Linked DNA regions of Homo sapiens: region 2 is linked to region 1. Evidence: fine-mapped expression QTL. A gene starts in region 1. The other region holds a variant in brackets. All regions are shown on one strand. Distances are between the middles of the regions. Region 1 holds the start of EWSAT1 (Ewing sarcoma associated transcript 1). Region 2 has its middle 26 kb from the start of EWSAT1.

Region 1 (2,912 bases):
GATTACAGACATAAGCCACTGCACTCAACCATAATTTTTTTTAAACTTTTTGTAAAGACGATGTCTCACTATGTTGCCCAGGCTAGTCTCGAACTCTTGGGCTCATGCAGTCCTCCCACTCTGACCTACCAAAATGCTGCAATTACAGGCATGAGCTACTGCGCCTGGCCAGAACATGCATTTTAGAACTGATTAAATAAGTAAGGTAAATCAGACACGAAGGATATACAGAATAAGCCAAAGAGTAGGGTGTAGGGTGTAGGGAGACTTGGAAGAAGGAAAGTACTGTGAAGAGGGGACAGCTTGTGCTGAGAGGTCTGGAGGGAAGAGGGTGGCTGCTTATAGCTCAGTAAGACTGCAGTTAGAGCCTGTGGGCTGGAAGGTGACAGATGAGGCTGGAGATGGAAACAAGGGCCAGATCATGGCCTGCCTCATAAGTAGATGGCCTTAGTCCCAGTTTACATCTGTAGTGCATCTTTTTGATCTTAAGTGCCCTGTTGGACAATAAATTATATGATCACCCTACTAATAAGCCATTTTTAGATATGTGCTTTTTATCTTAAGAGAAATGAGAACAATGGAAGGGTTTTAAACAGACAGTAACAAAATCAGATTGTGAAAGTGTGTGTGTGTTGGAGGCAGGGTGTGTATTGCTTAATTTGAATGTTTTTGATGAGCTAATATGTTCATACAAGTCAAAACTTTAAAAAACACAAAAGTGAAAAATCTCCCTTCCACCCTGGCCCTCCTTCCACCCCTTCCACCCTACCTCACGGCCAACCCAATTTTCTTCCCTAAAAGCAACTGATACTATCAATTTCTTGTGTGCCCTTTCAGAATTTTGTTTTCCTTTTCTTTGAGATGGAGTCTCACTCTGTTTCCTAAGCTGGAGTACAGTGGCGCGATTTCGGCTCACTGCAACCTCCACCTCCCAGATTCAAGTCATTTTCCTGCCTCAGCCTCCCCGTAGCTGGGACTACAGGTGTGTGTCAGCGCGCCAGCTAATTTTTGTATTTTTAATAGAGACGGGGTTTCACCATGTTGGCCAGGCTGGTCTTGAACTCCTGACTTCTAGCGATCCGCCTGCCTCGGCCTCCCAAAGTGCTGGGAATACAGGCGTGAGCCACCATGCCCGGCCCCTTTCAGACATATTTAATGCATATAAAATTAATTCTTCTTTGCCTTTCAAATGTACCTATTGTTTTCTAATTCTTTATTTTCATTTAGTTTGCCTCCTTTTCTTATTCCTCTCACTATCTCTCATTGAGTTTCCACAGTATGTGTTCCCCTTTTACTGCTTCAGATTTGAGGCTTCATTTTTTAAGAGTGAAGGTTGGATAGTTTTCTTTTTTTCTTTCACTTCTTCCCCAAGCTCTGGCAGCTCAGGATTCATTTCCTCCCACTGTTTCATTACCTCTTCCCTCATCTCTCATGTGCGTGTTTTCTTTGTGGGGGAAATTACTTTGCTATGTTTTCTTAATTTTCTCGTTAAAATTGTCATCTGCTCCATGACAATGTTTTTTGATGAATCTTCTTTACCTGCTGTTTGCTGTTTGCTTTTTCTTTTTTCCTCCTTTGTTTCTTGTCAAAACTTTGTATATATTACTCATTATTGAAGAAGGTAATGTTTTTTCTTCCCCGTGGACCTCAGGTGTGAGAGAGGCCAAGATTGTCTTCCAGGTTGGCTAAATTTTCCTTATGACCCAGGGTTGATGTAAATTCACTGAGCCTTGAATTCTTTCCAACCAATGGCAAAGATTCCCCGAGGCAAAGTCTCTCCTCCCCTGTTGCCACAGAAACAGACCATTTCCTACAACTATGGCTTGTCTGAGTCCTGAGCCAGCAGAGCTCAGGCCACAGCACCTGCACCCGTTTTCTGCTGCTGCACACAAGGGCTCTGTGCATTCCGCATCCAGGTGTGCCCCTCCTCTTCTGGAGGATTCTTTTTCAGGCTGTCCCAGAGACTTTGCAGCACAGCATCCTTGCTCTATTTCTTCCTGCAACATCTCTGCTGAAGCTCTATTGCTTTTGGCAACTCTTCCGTCTATTTTGTGGTTTAGGTGTCTCCTACTTTTACTAAAAATGGAATTTGTGTTTTTATCGCTCAAGTCCTTTTTGCTTTTGGATTACTTCCAGAAAATGAAGGGAGGGTTACTAACTTTATGCCATCTTCAAACCAGAAGATCTTAGATTAGTAAGATCATGTTGGCCATGGCATGGAGAATGGGCTGGAGGTGGAGAGACTGGAGGTTGGAAGTCCAGTTAGGAGATTGCTCCTGCGCTGGGGAGTTGGTGTTAGGACAGAAGATCCAAGACGCGTTTCAGAGGTAACTGCTGAATCTTACTGGCTGGTTAGATGTGTGTTTGGGAGTGGGGGTGGATCAGGAAGAAACGGGATATTTCAGGGCTGGCTGCTGGAGGCTGCTTGCGATGTAACGTGGAGCTGGGCTTCCTGCCTGTTCTGCAGCTTCCTGCCACATTCCAGGCTGCATCTGTGTGGCTGGGCCCTCTGGGAAGGTCATAGGGAGTCCTAATGGGACAATGAGCTTCCCAGCCGTTCCCTTGAAGGTCCCTTGCAGATATCTGGATGAAACTCTTGGCTGGTGGAAACTTTCAAGAAGGCCTGAGGCAGTCAGAAGCCAAGTTGTGGTTTCAAAATTACCGGCCTATTCTCCAAGTCTCCCTGATGATGAGATCTCAAGATAAAAACAAGAAAACTGGGCGCAAAATGCTCTGTGGAACTGTTGATATCCCAGGGTTTCCTGCCAAGTCCTGGCTAAGGAACACAGGGAGGGAAAGGGGACCTAACAGAGGTCATAGAACCCACTCTCTGCCTCCATAGAGGCTTTCCAGGTCATCCAAACTACGAAAATTGAACAGAGAGCTTTCTCTCTCAGATTCTCCAGAGGGGG
Region 2 (2,912 bases), 27 kb after region 1:
GGAAAGGCTTTAGATAATACACAATGATAGAATTATGGTGAGTGGAGAATAACAATAAGCACATTTGATGGAGAGGAGATGAATTGTGGTGAATTGTGGGTGCGGGGAATGGTGAAAGGGAGAAAATTCAGAGTAAGTGTAAAGAAGGGGTTGTAACTCAAAGGCTAGGCAGATCACAGAAATGCATCAGGCAGACAAGCCAGACCACCATTAAAACCCATGGCTCCAATCTGAATGAGACTATATGGAATGGTGAGGACTGTGGTAAACTGGACAGTCCTGGGCCCTCTAACAAGCGGAGGCCTCAAGTCAGCTCTTGCCAGTTGTTGCCATGAAAGAATGTGGGCCCAGGAGTGCTTGCCCTTCCTTATTTTCAAAAGAAGCTTGGAATGTGGATTCTAAGATAAAATTTCCCTATTTTAAAAACCTTTGCCCCAATCATAACATGCCTGTAGGCTATCAGTTTACAATAATAGTTTAGAAGTTTTAAATCCTAATTCATAGGGATGTTATTTTGGAACTGGGAATAGACCAATATTTTTTCCCTTTTTTTTAAGGAGGGAAGGGCAGGTAGTTTATAAGGAGAGGGAAAAAAAATGAGTAAGATGGGGAAGGAGGATGAAATCATGGAAAACATGGTGGAAAAGACTTCACTACTCAGGCGGAGCTTGGAGGTTTACACAGTGCTCTCTTCTCCTCTGTATAAAGAATATATCACTCTGCAACATCCCTGGTGTACCACACTATTAGTTTGGTGACCATTGTGGAGTCCCCTCTCGCAATGACTGGGCTTGGCCAGCAGGACATTAGCAGGTATGATGCCCGCAAAGCTTGTCAAAGACTTGCACCCTGAAATGCACGCTGTTGGACATCTCACTTGGGATCCAGCTGCTGTGTGGAAATGCCATGAGGAAACGTATGGAGGAAAGAGAGGTCCCAGCCTTTCAACTATACCTGTCAAAGTGCCAGGCATGTGGCTGGGCACGGTGGCTCATGCCTGTAATCCCAGCACTTTGGGAGGGGCCAAGGCAGGCGGATCACCTGAGGTCAGGAGTTCGAGACCAGCCTGACCAACATGGAGAAACCCCATCTCTAGTAAAAATACAAAATTAGCCGGGCATGATGGCGCATGCCTGTAATCCCAGCTACTCAGCTGAGGCAGGAGAATCGCTTGAACCTGGGAGGTGGAGGTTGCGGTGAGCCGAGATCGCACCATTGCCCTCCAGCCTGGGTGACAAGAGTGAAACTCCATGTCAAAAAAAAAAAAAAAAAAAAAAAAGGTGCCAGGCATGTGAGCAAAGCCAGCTTGGATCCTGGTTGTAACTACATGACAACCCAAGAGAGACCAGCAGAAGAATTCTCTAGCCCAGCCTCAGTCAACCCATAGAATCATCATAATAAAAAGATTGCCTTAAGTCCCTAAGCTTTGGTGTTAAGCAGTGAAAACTAACAGAAACACTTAGTACGTAGCTGGCCTATGAATCAGATAGGATCTTGTTTGGTTAGACGTAACAGAACACCTGATAAATAGTGACTTGAGCAAGTAAGAGGCTTATTCTCAGGCAACAAGAAGTCTGCTTTTGTTTCATTGGTCAGAACCAGCTG[C/A]ACCAAGGGGGACTGAGGAAGTGTGATTAACTGGGCACATTGGTATTCTGAACAAAACAGGGTTTTTGACTAGTAAGGAAGAGGGAGGAATAGGTGTATATTTTGCAGTGTCTGCCACAGCCGTCTTACTAAAAAAAGAACAAACGTGTTTCTCTCATGATTTTTCCCTTCTGTACCAAATTTAGTCATAAAACCACAAGCCCAGCAACCCATACAGCCAGCACACATTTATCCCATGTTTGAAGGAAGAGGTCTCATCTTGATTTAATGGCTCAGCATTTTGTATTTGTCTGCCTGCTTCTTCCAGGTTCATTTCATAAAGAGCTGATTGATCTTGAACTTGATGCAGCCCATTGATACCATCACTACTAATAAAAGGTTTCAGGGCAATCAACTTTAAATTGGAAGCAATGGAGATGAGCAAACATTTTCAAATGAGCATATCTTCTGCAAAACTTAGCAGACTTCCAGGATGGTTGGTACAAGAGAAGAGGTCATAGAAGAAGCTAAATATAAAGTTTGCAGTTCTCATAGTTAGCCTGTGGCCATTTCAAGAGTTAGAAGCGCCTTGGCGGGAGTGGGGGGAGAAGCAATAAAAGAAAATGAGATTGAAATTCACTCATTTTCTTTCTTTTTAGCAACTTCTTGGAGAGAGGAAAAGGAGATGAATGAGACATAATATCACAGAACTTAGACTTGGCAATGCTCTCAGAGATGAATTATCCAGCCTTTCACTGAATTGCAAATAATAGTAGCTAGAATTTATTGAGTGTTTATCACATGCTAAGTGTTATGCAAAATAATTTACTGGCAATCTTTGATTTTACCTGCACCCCATCTCTAAAGGGTAGTATGATTTTAATGTCCACTTTACAGACATCAAGTTAAATAACTTGTTCAAGGCCATGGTAAATAAATGGGGGTACCAGATTTCCTGGCTATGTGTATTGCCTCTCCTTACTTCTTTTGACCCCATCCCATAACAATCTCTGCTCACCTCTTCCAGGTCTCCATTCCTCTAGACAACTCATTCCTATTTGAAAAACCCATCCTATTAAGTTGAAGTCCGCTTTTCTGAATCTCTCATCATCTGGTCTACCCTCTGGAGCAACACAGGCTGATTCCTCTGACCTACGATAGTCCTTCCAATAATGCATCCTCTGAGCTTTTTCTTCTCTATGCTAAACGTCTACAGCCATACTAACCGTTCCCTTCTTAAATGCTGTGTTTCTTCTTCTATGTGTACTGTATTCAAGGACCGCAAATTCAAAGTTCTACAGACACCAGGATAGTAATGAAAACAAATA

Evidence for each region.
Region 2: its variant is fine-mapped to the expression of EWSAT1 in blood mononuclear cells (TOPMed, PIP 0.98).

The regions. Positions count from the first base shown.
Region 1 is chr15:69,079,050-69,081,961 of GRCh38, forward strand. It overlaps EWSAT1 (Ewing sarcoma associated transcript 1), which reads left to right and starts at 1,801. Exons shown (of 4, transcript NR_026949.1): 1 at 1,801-2,327.
Region 2 is chr15:69,105,722-69,108,633 of GRCh38, forward strand. No RefSeq gene overlaps it. Among named protein-coding and RNA genes, the nearest start is that of EWSAT1, 26 kb to the left of the region's middle. The variant C/A (reference allele first, on the strand shown) is at 1,606.